Linked DNA regions of Homo sapiens: region 2 is linked to region 1. Evidence: fine-mapped expression QTL. Tissue or cell type: nasal epithelium. Region 1 holds a variant in brackets; the other region holds the start of a gene. All regions are shown on one strand. Distances are between the middles of the regions.

What was found. PIP is the estimated chance that this variant, and not a neighbour inherited with it, causes the effect.
Region 2: ADAMTS15 starts here. The variant in region 1 is fine-mapped to the expression of ADAMTS15 in nasal epithelium (TOPMed, PIP above 0.99).

The regions. Positions count from the first base shown.
Region 1 is chr11:130,827,664-130,835,767 of GRCh38, forward strand. No RefSeq gene overlaps it. Among named protein-coding and RNA genes, the nearest start is that of LINC02551, 30 kb to the right of the region's middle. The variant C/T (reference allele first, on the strand shown) is at 3,946.
Region 2 is chr11:130,444,643-130,452,746 of GRCh38, forward strand. ADAMTS15 (ADAM metallopeptidase with thrombospondin type 1 motif 15) reads left to right here and starts at 4,003. Exons shown (of 8, transcript NM_139055.4): 1 at 4,003-5,288. The coding sequence starts at 4,332. RefSeq lists an enhancer at 6,972-7,473.

The DNA of each region.
Region 1 (8,104 bases):
GGCTTGTGATGCCTGGGACAGCAGAGCTGGCAACAGCGGGCCCAGTGCCCTCAAGCCCCTGCTTCCTGCCTGTTTCTCTGGAAGTCAGCTGAGCTTCATGGCCACCCTAGAGCACAGCCTTGGAGCCCCTCTCCGCACACGTGGGTGTGCTGCCTGTCTCGGGTTAGCCATGGCCCATGAAGCTATCTCTGACTCCTGAGCAGCCAGACGTGGGGTGGGGTGGGGTGGCAGGGTGGGAAACCTCCCAGTCACCAACAGTGACCTTGGTGAGGCGCTGGGGGTGAGTCAGATCCTCCTCACAGACTACACACGGCTGCCACCTCCTGGAACTTGCCATAACCCAGGCAACTCTCAGATCCTGGGCCTTCACTTGTGATGTCAGGGATGGGGGCATTGCAAAGGAGGGAGGCGGGGACAATGGCTGGATGTTACCTGCTCTCTACTCTGGAAACCCAAGGCTGGAGGCTGCTGCAGCTCTGGGCGCCCTGGGGGCTTCTGCCAGCCCCGCCTGGCTTCCCTCTTGGAACAGAATGGAATCCTCACAGGTTTATAAAACCAAGCCTGATTTCAGGAAAGGGGGTGTCCTTTGGGGCACCTTTGATTTATCCTGCCATCCTCATCCACATCATGCCCCACAAGAAGCCCTTTCTCTCTGAGCCGAGGTGCTGTCACAAGCTGTTCAGAGGCCCCCATGCCCTAGTACCTCTGAGACAAGCAGTTGCTGTGGCAAAGGAGAGGCACCAAACAAAGACACTGGCCCTCTCTAAAGACTCTTGGTGACTCTAGAGCCAGAAGTCAACAGTGGGATGGACAGATCATCTCCAGCTCCTGTCTTCAAAACGCACCTGTGTTTTAACGGCTCCCCAGGGAAGGAGATCCAGTCACTGGCTAACATTCTGCGATGGTGTCTGATAGCCCTCACCAGCTCCAGAATGTTCCTATCCCTCTTAGGCTTTCTTTTTGTATCTTCATCACTCTGACGTTGGTGCGCTTTCAGGCCCTGTTTGCTGCAACCCTGACTGGAACCTCCACATTTAAGTTCCTAATGAAATCTTCTCTTTGACTTTTGCTCATTTATAAAACTTTGTGCCAGCTCTTGGGGTCCAGAGAAATCAGTTTCTAGACCAAATGCCAAGTGCCATCTCCCAAATCTGCAGGTGAGGGTAGTCACTAAAATGCCAAGTGACCTGTCTGCAAGCCGACAGCTGAGGGTGACCTTGCTGGCTGGGCTAGGCCAAATGGGCTCCGGCGTTCAGTGTGTCTCATTTCTCTGCTATTTGACCTGGTTCACATTTGGCTGCGGGGATTGAGCCCAGGCAGTGGGCCCAACTCAGCGGTGTCCTCTGGCCTCTGCACAAGATCTTTATCATGAAGCTAGGCAAGGGCTGTATAATCCTTTCCGTTACTTCAGGGTAATGGTCGAGGTAGGAAGGAGCTCTGGGTGACCTGCCTGGAAGAACAGGTTGAGGTTTATAAGGTTGATTTCAGTAGGTTTTGGGGTTTAATGGGTAGGGAAAGGAGAGGGGCTGGCTGATGATGGCCAGGCCATAGCACTGAAGTCCAAAGACCCAAGGTATACAGAGGTCAAAGCTTCAGGTTGGGCAGGAAATTTGTGCAGGCCAGCCTGGAGAGCATTCTTAAGTCTTGAGGATGGTACATTCCCCAAGGGCAATGACCACTTCGTAAATGTATTTTCACTCCCTTAGAAAACTCAGCACAGTACTGTCACATAGTATACAGATGATGGTCAAGAGCACTGAGTTCCAAGCCCTGCTCTAGGATTTAGCCTTGTGACTTGGGCGAGTTAATTAAATTATCTTCTCTGTGCCTCAGTGGGCTCGTTTGTTAAATGGAGATAATAATAGTACTTGCCTTACATGACTGTTACAAGGATTAAATGAGAGGATAAGCAATTATAGCAGTGTCTTGCTAATAGTATTAGGCACACAACAGGTAATGATTGAGTGAACGGCTAAAATTCAGATGGAATTATATTGCAGGAGGACTAAATTCCTAGTTTGAGGCTGTTTATCTCCAGTGCTTGATTTCTGGTATTTGTCACCTATTTTATATGCTAGAGAGTTTTATAATTATTTAAATCATGTCACCAAGACAGCCTGGAAGAAACTAGTACATGTATTGAAACCCCTTCCACCTCGAGGCTGGAAGCTGGGGCCAGGCAAGCACTGCCGCCACGTTCGCCACACACGTTTAAGTTCAGGGGCTGAAATGTGCAATTTTTTGCTGTTGATGGAGCTACAGCTGCCTGGACAGACCTAGGCTACACTGTTCAGCCCCGTGCTGCAGCTGGCTCCTCTCATGACCAGAGGCCAACATACATCCCATGGTTTGTTAGGGTCAGGGCAGCCACCTGGGGCCACAGACCAGAATGCTGCTCACTTATCTCCTTGGGGATTTGCATTTAGCCCTTGGCCTTGCTGGCCCTCTGCTCTGGCCACCTGAGAAAGCTGGCACAAGACAACAGGAAATTGGAAGCTATGTCACAGGTCAGGTGTCCAGGGAAAGGCCTGAAGGTGACCACCCTGGGTGTCATGTGGAGGGAAGGGAGGACACCCTGGCAGGAAAGCCTGGACTCAGCTTGGGCTGTAGCCAACCCCTCTCTCTTCAAAGCACCCACCAAAAAAGCTGTAACAGAGCAGAATGGCTGGGCCTCTCTCACCCCTTCCTTTCCCGCACTGAGCTCGCCTGTGCACCGGCCTCAGGACTCGCCTGCCAAGTCCCTTGGCTTCCCTCCGCAGTCTGTGGAATCTGAGCAGGATGATCCCTGGCCCAGCTGTTAGGAATCATTTTGAGGATGAAAACAATTAAGCTGGGCAAGAAGCCCACCACCGAATCCTGCCCCCTTTTTTGCACCCTTGCCCATTGTTCTCCTTCACCCCTTTCCGGGTCACCTTTTCTATCTATCCACGAACCTGCTGAGAACATTCACTGACAGTGTGCTGGCTTTGGAGGCACCCGCCCAACCCTGTGGATTTGGAGATCCTGGGGTGTGGGAGGAAGGGGTAACCGGATTCTGGAAGCATCTCCCCCCACAGGAGGCTCGGCCAGATTCAGCCAAAGTGCTGGCCATCTGTGTAACGTTGCTAAGCAGTGTCCTTTCCTGGACTTGTCCTCCCTGCCCTCTGGGCATCAGAACTCTTGGTGCTGAAGTAACAGATATGCACACTGAGGCATGTCTAAGGAAGGCTGTGAGCCATTTATCCATCCACCCTAGGCAGCCCTTCAGGCTCTGCAGGCCAGAGAGCTCACTGCTGCATCTGAAGAAGTTCCTCAGATATTTTGAATGTTCCCTGCAAGGGCAGGACTAGCTGAAGGAAGTGCTAGACAGGGTCCTGGGGCTCTGGACTCCAGCCTGCGAGCCAGGCAAGGGGATGACGGCAGCATCTTTGGTCTCTGGTGCTCCACATGGCTCCTGAACTCCTCTGGACGGTGTCTGTCTCTCCTGCCCCCCAGGCCACTGTGTTCTTCCCGCTGCTGTGTCCTGGTATCTAGGACCATGCCTGGCACACAGTAGGCTCTCAGCAAATTTGTCTCACTAAGGCTGACAATGCCCACTTTCTGCAGCAGGGCCAGCATCCTTTCTTCACGTTAAGGCGTTGCTATTCCTTCTTCACCTGGGTTATTTGCCTTAAGTATCAAAGTCCTAAGCTAAAGAAACAAAACGCTAAGGTGGATGATTTCAGGCATCGACAAGGGAGAAGAAGGCCTGTCTTGGGGAGGAGGTGACAATGGGAGCTTCGGGAAGACAGAGAATGCCTGTGAGGCTCAGCTCCCCAACTGTCCCTAGAACTTCTTCATTATCTCTGTGGCCCCAGGAAAGGGACCCAGAGGCTGGCCCATGCCCAGTGTGAAAGCTGGCAGCAGGCGTGCAGGGGGAGGGGGGAAAAGCAGCCCGAAGTGCATTTCTCAGTGCATTTCTCAGCA[C/T]ATCACCTTACTCTGATCCACCCTGTTGGTGAGGGCGGCTGCCCCGCCCACCTTCACAGCTGCCGGGGTGTGGCTGGGGAGGGGAGCCTGGGCTGTGAGAACAGATGATTTCAATTTAAGCAGCATTTGGGGAGAGTCCTGTTCCACTTGCTCATTTTTCTTAGCACTCCCCCCACCCCTGCTCCGAAACTTGATTCAATCAGTGGTGGATGGGAAAGGCCCGTTTCCATGACAACCCCACTGTGAGAGAGAAAAATCAGCCACAGAGCAGGCTAGAATTTTATCTGGAAGAGGGCACTTGGGTAGGTTTAGAAATGGAGGCCCAGCAAACAGTGCGATGGGCTCGCATCCCATGGTGGGACCTCGGACCCTGGAGAAGGCATGGAACACGGGGTGCCATCAAGGATGTTTATGCTCAGAGAGACACACCTGCTCGTTGCCTGGTTTCCATTAAACCTGCCTGATCTCTCTGGGCTCCAGTCCTACCGCTTGGGTTTATTTTCATGGCTGATGTAACCCAACCAGACTGATGAGTCTGGATCTTTCTCTTTTTCGTACAGTGCTTCCTGTTTAGTTAAGCGTGTTCAATATTTCTGTGCACATTCATTTCCCATCTGATGTTTCCAAAGATGACTGTGGTCTCGATTTCATCTTCCAAGGCGAATGCTCTGGAGCCCAAGGACCCAGATGTGTTGATAGAAAGCATGGTGTGGACATCGTTCACAAAGTTTCGATCCAAAGGGAGGGGATCTTTGGGAAAGATTAAGGGTTTCAGTTCAATCTCTACACCCTTTTAGAGTTGTAGAAGTTGAGTTTCTAAGGAGAAATTATTGGCTGGACGTAGTGTCCCAGCCTGTGTCCAGAATGAGATGTTCAGGAAAGGTGTTTCTAGGAGGGACGTTGCTCTGAAAATGTCCAAGTCTGGGCTTGAGGACTCAGGATACATTGACCCCTATCATTCTCTGAGATTCTCAGTCTGCTGGTTTCCTTGCAGATCTATATGCCAGCCCAGCTCTGGGCCTGGCAGAACTCATGGCCCTAGGTTTGGAAAAATCCCCAAATGTAATCTCCTCCAAGGGTTTTGCCCTTCACTCTGAACTCCATGGGGCCTTTTAAAGTAGATTGAATCCATATGTTTCTGATTCATTTACACTTAACTCATCAGAATGTTCCTTTTTTTTAAATGCGTGATTTGTTGTCTTAAGATGCCTTTGCAGTCTTGTTTATAAGTGCTTCTTTCGCCTTTAGAAACAAGATACTATGTCTTGTCAAGGCATGTGTTGGGGTGGCTGTAGTAGAGACCTTCTAGTTTCAGGTCTGAGTCTCATTTTGGTTCCTAAGAGGAAATGCACTATTTTTGCAGAGCTGCTTGGTTTGAGTGTTAAAAGATTTCATTTACGCTCTGAGCATGGGTTTGACAGGAAATATTTTTACTCCTTCCCTTAGGTTGGAAACTCAGTGAACGCCGCTTCTGAGTAGCAAAGAAACCTTGGGAAAATTACTTAATCCTTTTGGTCCTCCAGTCTTTCCTCTGTAAACTGGGGATGAAAATACCCCCACATCACAGGGCTGTCATGGCAATAATGTACTTCAAGATGTTATAAAAACATGAGTCATAGAATTAGCTGGGGTTCCTCTAAACAAGCCCATGCATTGCTCTAGCCTTTCCTTCATATGTCATCCCTTGGGTCCGCTTTACTCCAATTAATACATCGAGACTCAACCCAAACATCACATAGTCTAAGATCTTCCTTGTATATCAGCCTTGACCCCCGAAGAACAGTCCGTCAGTCTCTCCCCTGTGTCCATGCAACATCTTACCCATGTCTCTATCCTCCGACTCATCACTTGTTAGCAATTTGTTTATATAGCCCTATTTTCCCTTTATAAAACTGAGATCTCCTTGAGGGCAGGAAAATTATATTCATCTTGGTATTTCCAAAGACATGGACAGAGTCTGGCTCATGGAGGGGCTCAATAATAGTTGAAAATAAGAAAAAAAGACAGCAAAGGGAATACAATGCTATAAATTCTTTTGGGAAATCAGGATGAATCCGGTTAACTCCACCTGGCTTTGTAAGAAGTGAGGCTAAGGAGAAAGTAATTAGTAAGATTTCTCCTTTTTTCTGTAAGAACTGTTAATGCCAATTAGAGGGCAGCTTCCAAAAACCACCAGTAGCAACAGCACACTTCTTCAGTAACTATATCAGCTCCTTTGGTCACGCCCAAGTTTTTGAGACAAAACTAGAGATACCCAACCCATAGGGTCATATGTAATAATAAATATCAAGGTCCTACAGTAGAATTCCAAGCTATTTCCTTCTTTAAAGTATATCATGTGTAATGGGAAAGAGGAAAGTCTTTTCCCATTTTATGAAGGATTTTATTGTCAACACTGGTCCTCAATCCAACACTCTCTCTCAATCCATAACCTATGAGCATAGCCTTGGAGAAATAAAAAATAGGTCCATATAAATCCAACATTCAGAGTCATTGAATGTTAGATATGTAAAAAGCAAAGTGTGACTGCTAGTCACTGTAGGTCTTGGGGCAGCAAAGAAGCATTGAAAAGATCCCTGCCTTTGAGTATTGGTTGTAGATAAAGAGGCACAGCTAACTGCATGGCAGAGAAGATTCTGATAATTGCTAAAACAAAGGAACAAAGCATGGATACAGAGGAGGGAAAAGTACCTATGACCAGTTTAATCTGGGAAGGCTTCATGGGGGAAAGGTGGTAACATTTGACCTGAACTTTGAAATACAGCTAGAACTTGACAGATGGTAATAGAGAGAGCTTCCAGACAAAGAGAATAACCACCTGAACATAGTTCATAAGGTGGACATGTGCAGAGCATATTTTATGAACATCAAACAGACCAGGCTGGAGTGTATAGTTACTGGAAGGAACAGTGAGAAATTAGGCCAGAAAGATAGGCTTGAGCTTGAAGTTAAGGACTTAAGACTTTATATCACTATTTTTTATTATGGAATGACTTTTTCAGAACTATGGTATAGAAAGATCATCCAGGCCACAGTGTAATAATAATAGTCATCCTTTATTGAATACCTGCTATATTCAAGCAACCATTCTAACTGATTTATATGAATTAATTCATTTCATTGTCATTTCAATCTATGAGGTAGATTATGTCCCATTTTACAGATGAGTAAAATGAGGCACAGATAGGCTGGGTGACCTTCCCAAGTCCAAACTGCCAGAAATCAATAGAACCAGAATTCAGATCTTGATTTTTGGCCCCAGACCCCATGCCCTTAACACTTAACACTCTCATAGCAAAGAAGCAGAAAGCAGGCAATTAGAAGCTATTTCAGTATCCAGTAACAAGTTCTGAGGGCTGAATGGAAACAGTGGTTTAGAAAGAGAAAGAAAACATGTATGAATGACATAGTAGAGGCACTGCCCCCAGTTTGCTGTGGAGTGGAGGATGGTGAAGGAGAGCAGAGTCAGAGAAGACTTTGTGGCTTGGGATTTGAACCACAAAAGGCAAAGTAAATTTCAATGGGAAGGTGAAGGGTTCAGTTTTGAACATGTGGAACATAATACACATGTGATACTATCTTGCAAAATGTTGGAAGTGTGGGCTGGAGAAAGTTTGCAGCTACAGATGTTGAAACATTGTGGGAATCATTGAAGCCAGAGTAGGTCAGGCCATCAGGAGAAGCACAATCTCTTTGATGCCTTGTAAGATAAACTCTCATCATTTTTCTTTTTCTGGTTACTCAAGGTATAAAATTCAGTTGTTGATTTGAGATCTTTCTTTTTTCAAATGTGAATACTTATGGCTACAGATTTTTCTCTTTGCACTGCCTTCACGGCATCCTATAAGTTTTGGTATGTTGTATTTTCATTTTCATTTATCTCAAGGTATTTTCTAATTTCTCTTGTGATTTTGTCTTTAACACATATGTTGTTTAAGAGTGTGTGTTTAATTTCCACATATTTGTAACTTTCCAGTTTTCCTTCTACTATTGATTTCTAGTTTTATCTTATTGTGGTTAAAAAAGATATGTTGTGTGACTTCAATAATTTTAAATCTGTTATGTCTTGTTTAAATCTGTTATGACCTGAAAAATGTTCCAGGTAACACTTGAGAAAATATGTACCCTGCTGGTGTTGAGTGAAGCATCCTGCATATGT
Region 2 (8,104 bases), 380 kb before region 1:
GCTGGATTAGAATTGGGTTGATTCATTTGCTCAGTATCTTTGGAGCGCCCCTGTGAGCCCAGCACTGTGTCAGGCTCTGGGAGATATAACAGTGAACGAGATGGGGAAGGTCCTGCTCTCATTTTAACGGAGGGAAGTCAGTCAAGAAAAAAAAAAAAGATCTAAGTGAGCAAAATAGGTTTAGATAGAGAGATAGAGGTAAATGCTAGTGGACAAGACAAAACATGCAATCATGATTGTGACTTGGGACTTCTCAGATTGGGCGGTCTGGGAAGGCCCCTCTGAGGGGGCTGTACTTGGGCTGAGACCTGGAGGCTGTGAAGAGGCCAGCCTAGTTGGCGAAGGACAGAAAGGCCAAGCTGGGGGTCTTAGATCTGACAGATGGCTTAGACCCCCAGTCGTCCTCTGGGGGAAGAGCTGCTTTTTAAAAAATTTTCATTTTCATACATTGACAGGGAGTTGCTTTTTATTTTCCAGGGATGTTAAGATCATGGAGGGCAGGAGAAGCGAGAACTCCATGGCGGTTGTGGAGTCCCGTTATGGAAGTGGGACGTGGGAGCCAATGTGAAAGCTCCCGAGCAGAACTGGGAGAGGACACGCCCCAGAAAACTTCAGAAGGTGATGACAGCAATCAGCTTGGAGGGCCTAGCAGAGACTGATAGCACTAGGAGGAGTAATAATAATAGCACATAAGAATATTAGCAGTACTATTCGATAATATTTAAGGAACTTTTAAAATATACCAAGCATTGCCAAACACTTTGGAAGTATAATATTAACTCATTTAGTCCAGGCAGTGGGTAGAATTTGTATCCCCATTTTAATAATGAGAAAAGTGAGGCTTAGAGAGGTACAGTAATTTACCCAAGATTGCACAGCTAAGATCTGGTGGAGGCATGCACACAGGGCCCTCTGACCATGGGCTCTAAATCACTGTACTATGTTCCCTTCCATAGGCCTCAATCAGTCATGTAATATTTGACCTGGTCGTTATCTTAGGTATTATCTAGACCACAGATTTTGGATGCAGTTCTCTGGCTGAAGACCTCTGAGCTAGGATAACCCCTTCTCTTTTGACAGACGAGTCAGAGAATCAGATCAGTGATAGAAGTGGAGTGCCAATCCTGAGTATCACCTCTACTCAAGTGCTCAACATATCCCTAGATCCTCAATTCCCTGGCAAAAGTGATTGGATGGAACCACAGGCTTCCAAGAGGGGACAGTCAAGCATTAAATACGAGAATGCACATATAACTCTTGGTGCAATGTTTAGCACATACTAAGCCTGCAATACATGCTAATCCCTTTGAGCAAATCCACATGGCCAGTTTCTGTGCTCAGGGGTGAGAATAGCTGGGCTGTGATTGGGGCAGGGGGAGCACTAAGTGGGAGGGACTTCCTGTCTCAGGTCCCTGCCATCTTGACTGACATGCTGCAGCCCTTGCCAAAACCCATGGGTCAGAATGAAAGTAAAGTGCCGTTGAAAACCTTGCAATCCACCTTTAAAACTGCCGGGTGTAGTAAAACAATTGCTTGCCCCAAATAAATGACTTATCATTGCTGTTGGTTGTCTGCGTTTCTCTTTAATTATAGGCCCTCTTTGAACGCTCAAACACACAGGGCCTTTGTAAGCTTGAACTCCCTGTCTCACACACAGTCCTCCCATACCCATACACTCTCTTTCATTTGCAGAGTATAAACACCCATCTCTCACTCATTCACATAATGAATTTCAGCTCCTTGTGTCCCAATCAAGGAGAGGCCTCACTGGAATTATGGGCATCTGAGCCATCTTCATGTTCCAAGGCCCCAGGGGGCGCTTCCAAGAGTGGATCCTTTATGGGGAGAAGATAATGGGCAAAAAGTGCTCTTCACTGATGGACCAGTCCCAGCCTTTTCTCTCCTTGGACAATAGAGTTCTTCCCTTGAACAGCCACTTCCCTAAAAAAAATTCCAAAATTCTCCCACATCATCCCCTTTATGCTTAAAATCATCACACACTCCCTTCTTTGTCCTCCCCTCTTGCAAACTCAACTCAGAGCCCTTTGGCTCCAGAAAGATTTTCTAGGTATCAGGAGAGAGTAGCAAAGCCTCCCTCCTCTCCTTGCCTTTCTCCCTTGTCAGAGAAAGAAGTTGATTCTGCGGAGAGGTAAGAAGGATCTTGAGGTCTAGAGCCTGAAAAACTCCTTGGGCTGTTCTCCAAACTAGATGGGAACATAAGGTGCGATTGCATCTTCTCCAGCTGATACTCACTCGGCCTCCTATGCCAGTCCCCAGTCCAGGGTTTGGTCAAGGGTCAAATGAGATAATTTCATGGAGGAAGCCTGGCCCGATTTTTCTACTGTTTGCTGGAAGACAGCCTCTTCCTCTTGTAACTGCAGCCCCAGAACCTGATCTCCACATCCCTGCCAGGCAGGTAGCTGTGTACAAGGGCTCATCTTCCTGCCCCCAACCCCAGCTCTGATTTGCTTATTCAGGTGGTGTAAATACTTCTACCAGGACCTATTTCAAGCCATTGTGATGTCCCTGACTGGGGAGATGCAGGGCAGCACACCATTTAATATTTCCCTCACATTTCCACCCCATTCTGCACTCTTTTCTGGGAGTTGCTGTCTCAGAGGGTTGGCGGTTCTGGTGGCTCAAGACCATAAGTAATTATCAAATACTTAGGAAGCGACGGGTTTTGAGTATTTATTACCTTTTAAAAATGTACTTTGTGGCTAGGCATGGTGGCTCACGCCTGTAGTCCCCGCACCGGGAGGCCGAGGTGGGTGGATTGCTTGAGCTCAGGAGTTCAAGACCAGCCTGGGCAACACGGCGAAACCCAGTCTCTACCAAAAATACACACACACACACACACACACACACACACACACACACACACACACAAATTGGCCTAGCGTGGTGTCGTGTGTCTGTGGTCGCAGTTACTCAGGAGACCAAGGTAGGAGGTAGGAAACCAAGGTAGGAGGATCACCCGAGGTCGGTAGTTCGAGACCAGCCTGACCAACATGGAGAAACCCTGTCTTTACTAAAAATACAAAATTAGCTGGGCGTGGTGGTGCATGCCTGTAATTCCAGCTACTTGGGAGGCTGAGACAGGAGAATGGCTTGAACCCGGAAGGCGGAGTTTGCGGTGAGCTGAGATCGCGTCATTGCACTCCAGCCTGGGCAACAAGAGCAAAACTCCGTCTCAAAAAAAAAAAAATATATATATATATGTGTGTGTGTGTGTGTGTGTGTGTATGTATATATATATATGTATGTGTATATATATGTATGTGTGTGTGTGTGCATATATATATATACACTTTGTTTAATTGTAAGTGTGTTTAGTTTAATTTTTAATAATGTCCGTGATTAACAGCTGGCTGGCAAGATTCCTGAGAACTGAAGAGTTTGCCCCAGCCCATCCAGCACACCATGGGCCCAGGGCAGACCTTGGGGCTAGGCGGTCTTGGGTTCCAGAGGGCTCCCATGCCCCTGTCCTATTGCTCTTCTGGCAATAGGACATTTACGCGGGGGGGGGGGTGGTTCTTGATTCTGGGTCTTTTAGGGGACTCTGTGATTAAGAAACAGCAGGGATGTTGCAACAGCAGGGATGAGGTGGGCCTGGGGACGGGTCAGTGAAGGGTCTTCATTCCTAGCTGCTGACCTGATCTGCCCTGAGATAAAAGACTAAGACCCAGAGAGTGAACGCTGTCCGCGGGGGCAGAAGCGAGTGAGGCGTCGGGACAGTGGGGCATAACCAAGAGCAAAACGCAAACTGAGACTTCAGCGCCGGTTTCTCGGGCCAGCCCACGCCTCCTGCCTCAGCTCAATGCCACTCCCTCCCCGCCAAGTGGCTCTCCGCTCTGGAGGCGGGACCGAGTTCTCCGGTGGCCCCTGGAGGCTCCGGCAGCGAGCTCTGGGAGGCTGGGAGGGGAGTGAGGGGAGGGGCGCTGACTGGGCCGTCCAAAGAGGAGGGGGCCTTTAATAGGCTCGCCCAGCGCCTGGCTTGCTGCGCTGCGAGTGGCTGCGGTTGCGAGAAGCCGCCCGGCACCTTCCGCTAGTTCTCGGCTGCAAATCTTCGTCCTTGCACTTGACAGCGATTGTACTTAAGCTCCCAGGGCGCGCTTTGCTTGGAAAGGCACAGGTAGGAAGCGCGGGCTGCCGGGTGCACGCTCGCCGCCCTGGGAGGAGTCTCCCTCCCTTGGCTCTCCTTTCTGGGAACTGCCGGCTGTCCCGTAGCGTTGGCGGTTCCAGAGTGCGGGCTGCACGGAGACCGCGGCAGCGGCCGGAGAGCCCGGCCCAGCCCCTTCCCACAGCGCGGCGGTGCGCTGCCCGGCGCCATGCTTCTGCTGGGCATCCTAACCCTGGCTTTCGCCGGGCGAACCGCTGGAGGCTCTGAGCCAGAGCGGGAGGTAGTCGTTCCCATCCGACTGGACCCGGACATTAACGGCCGCCGCTACTACTGGCGGGGTCCCGAGGACTCCGGGGATCAGGGACTCATTTTTCAGATCACAGCATTTCAGGAGGACTTTTACCTACACCTGACGCCGGATGCTCAGTTCTTGGCTCCCGCCTTCTCCACTGAGCATCTGGGCGTCCCCCTCCAGGGGCTCACCGGGGGCTCTTCAGACCTGCGACGCTGCTTCTATTCTGGGGACGTGAACGCCGAGCCGGACTCGTTCGCTGCTGTGAGCCTGTGCGGGGGGCTCCGCGGAGCCTTTGGCTACCGAGGCGCCGAGTATGTCATTAGCCCGCTGCCCAATGCTAGCGCGCCGGCGGCGCAGCGCAACAGCCAGGGCGCACACCTTCTCCAGCGCCGGGGTGTTCCGGGCGGGCCTTCCGGAGACCCCACCTCTCGCTGCGGGGTGGCCTCGGGCTGGAACCCCGCCATCCTACGGGCCCTGGACCCTTACAAGCCGCGGCGGGCGGGCTTCGGGGAGAGTCGTAGCCGGCGCAGGTCTGGGCGCGCCAAGCGTTTCGTGTCTATCCCGCGGTACGTGGAGACGCTGGTGGTCGCGGACGAGTCAATGGTCAAGTTCCACGGCGCGGACCTGGAACATTATCTGCTGACGCTGCTGGCAACGGCGGCGCGACTCTACCGCCATCCCAGCATCCTCAACCCCATCAACATCGTTGTGGTCAAGGTGCTGCTTCTTAGAGATCGTGACTCCGGGCCCAAGGTCACCGGCAATGCGGCCCTGACGCTGCGCAACTTCTGTGCCTGGCAGAAGAAGCTGAACAAAGTGAGTGACAAGCACCCCGAGTACTGGGACACTGCCATCCTCTTCACCAGGCAGGTGAGTTGATCTGCCGTCACTTTGCACCCAGATAGTCCCGTTCTTTAGGGTCACCTCCCCTAGCGCTCCAAATCCCCTTTGTATCGTGCAATGCCTCCGAGTTTAAACCTCGTTGATCTCTTCCGACTCCAACTCTGTGGAGTTTCCAGGGAGAGCCCTCTCCCACGCTCCGCGGAGCGGCGGCTCACGTGCATCTGGGCCATTGGAGGAGAGCCTGCGCTTTCCGAAGGTGTTGGCCTGGCGCGGCCAATCAGCGCCTCCTGGATCAGGCGCCGAGGGGCCGGAACCCAGGAAGTTGCCGCCCCGGAGCTGCAGTTTGTGTCCAAGACCGATAGGAGACGCCGTGAGGATGGTGTTGGAGAGGGCGGGAACGGCCCACCCCTATTGTATGGGCGGCTGAGTCTTCTCGGACACCTCCTGAGGTCTCCTTTCAAGGGTTGTAGAACTGAAGGTGATCCAAGGTCAGCGCTTGCTACATTTCTCTCGGGTAACACGTTGTCCCCTCTCTGTACTGGGCCTGGAAAGCCTGGATTGGGGTGGAGGGAATCATTGAGAGATTTTGTGGGTTGCAGTGACAGGCCAGACTCAAGTACTGCGAGCATCCCTCCTTCACTGCCGCTTCTCCTACAGACTTCTCTGCTGGGCATGGTCCAAGAGGCTTCTAGACCATTCTGAGCAGGCGGTGTAGTTAGGGCACCTGTTTGGAGCTGAGACTGTTTCACTTGGAGTTTCAAGTGGAGTTTTACTTGGAGCTGAGTTGGGAAAATCTCTTCCAATTTTCCTGTATCCTTGCTGTCAGAGGGTGACCCGTTTGCCCAGATGTATACTACAGAGCAGAGCGGGCATGCTTGCTCCTGCTCCCAAGTCACTAAAATTCCTATGACCACACTTGACTTCAGGGCTCTAGCTTCTGCCCTTGCTGGGGTGGAAGTGGTGTGAGCTTAGTCAAGAGTATTTGGAGATTCCAGCTGTAGAGTTAGAAGGAAACTGAGTATTGGGATTAGAAAGATGGACCCAGCCCAGGAAGCAGCCCTGCCTTTTGCAAGGCCTTTCCTGATATTCTATGTCAAAGAAGCTACAAATCTGCAAACGTTTAGATTCACAGGTGTTGGAGTGATTGGGCACTGAGGAGTATTTGGATTCTTGAAATTTCTCAGATACAGGAGGCTGGGAGGAAAAGAGCCATCCAAGTGAGCCTCTTCTTCTGATTTGGGGGACTGTGACTTGAATCTGTGCCATGCTCTTTTTTTTGGTTATTATCATAACCACAGCACTCTGGGGATGGCGTGGAATCCTTGGTTACCTGTGGGGCTCTAACTCTCCACTGTTTCCAAATGGTCACTCAAAGTTGGACTGGCGCACACAGTCTGGAGCTGGAGTCTTCCACAGTAACCCATTTGGCACAGCTAGTCCCTTCCTGGAGTCGAACTTCCTCTGTTCCCAGCCTTCTTCTCCTCCCACCACCTGGTTTCTCTAGGGAGGTCTTTGGCCTGAGTCTGTTTCCTTGTGCTCATTCTTCCAACTGAGGTCTGTTGAGCTGCCACTGCCCAGCCTCTGCAAGCACTGCCTGAGTCATGGGGAAGCTGCAAAGGAGGTGGCTTTGACCTCTGCACACAGACCAGCTTGGCAGTTAGATTGCTGGGGCTTGAAAAAAAGCAAAGGCCAAGAACAGGATATCTTAATGGGCAAAGCAGCTGTTGCCCCATTCGTTACCTGGGCTGCCCCAGTGCAGGTCACTCACTGGCTCCAAAATAAAAGACCTCAGCCTCTGCAGCCTGGTGGTGAAGGCTGGCTTCTGGAGTCAGCCCTAGGAGAAGAACTCCTGCTGGGAATAGGGACCATGCCGTCAGAAGGAGGCCGCCTTTTGAAGAAGAAGCAATCAAACAGCATGACAGCTTCTATTTCTCAGTGGTGTGTGCTCAACCCCCCGGGGGCTGTGTTGTCCATGCATAATGGGTACAAGATGCATGACCACTGGATCAGAAGCAGTGATGTGCAAAATGTGACTTTTAGAAGCTGCCTTCCCCTTAGGTGCCTAGAGAGCAAAGCTAGAGAGTGAGGCTTCTGTGTGGTCAGGGCCACCATCAAGGTATGTACTTTATGCTTCAGAGGAAACCCCTCTTCCCCACCTCCTCAGCAGCTCAGACTTCAGGGCCTACTGCATTCTGAGAGTCTCAGGATCTTCTCACTCCTGATATCTCTGGGGGAAGGTACAGTATTTGATGAGAACAGGAGGGAGTAGCTGCCCTTTCTAAGATTAAGGCAGATGCGGTCTCCGGGAACCTTAACTGCCCGGAAAGGAGAATATAGTGGTTATACAACAAGTATTTTGACAATTTGAGGAGTTTACTTACAGATTCAGAATAAGTTCATGGAGAAAAGTGCACATCTGATTTTGCAAAGTGATCGGTCTCCAGGCTCATAACAGCAGGGTGAGGTCAGCACAGGACTGGAACCAGGATCTGCGAAGAACTAGAGCCAGAGTGTTTCTCATTTATTTCTATGAGGAGAAAAGTTTCTTTGGCTTCTTGTTGCATTGGGCGGCAGGAGCCAGGTATTTAATGCCGAGACTTGGTAGGCCCTCCCTCATTCCCTGAGACTTCTCTGTCTTTAGGTCCAATAACGCTGCCGTTTGGGTGACCCTTTGTGGTAGAATGGCTTTCATTCATTTATTTGTACACTCTTTTAATACTTGTTGAGCATTACTTATTATTATTTCTAGGTACTACCCTGGGCTGTGGAGCTACAAATTGTAATAAATTGTGGCCTTGGCCGGGCGCAGTGGCTCACGCCTGTAATCCCAGCACTTTGGGAGG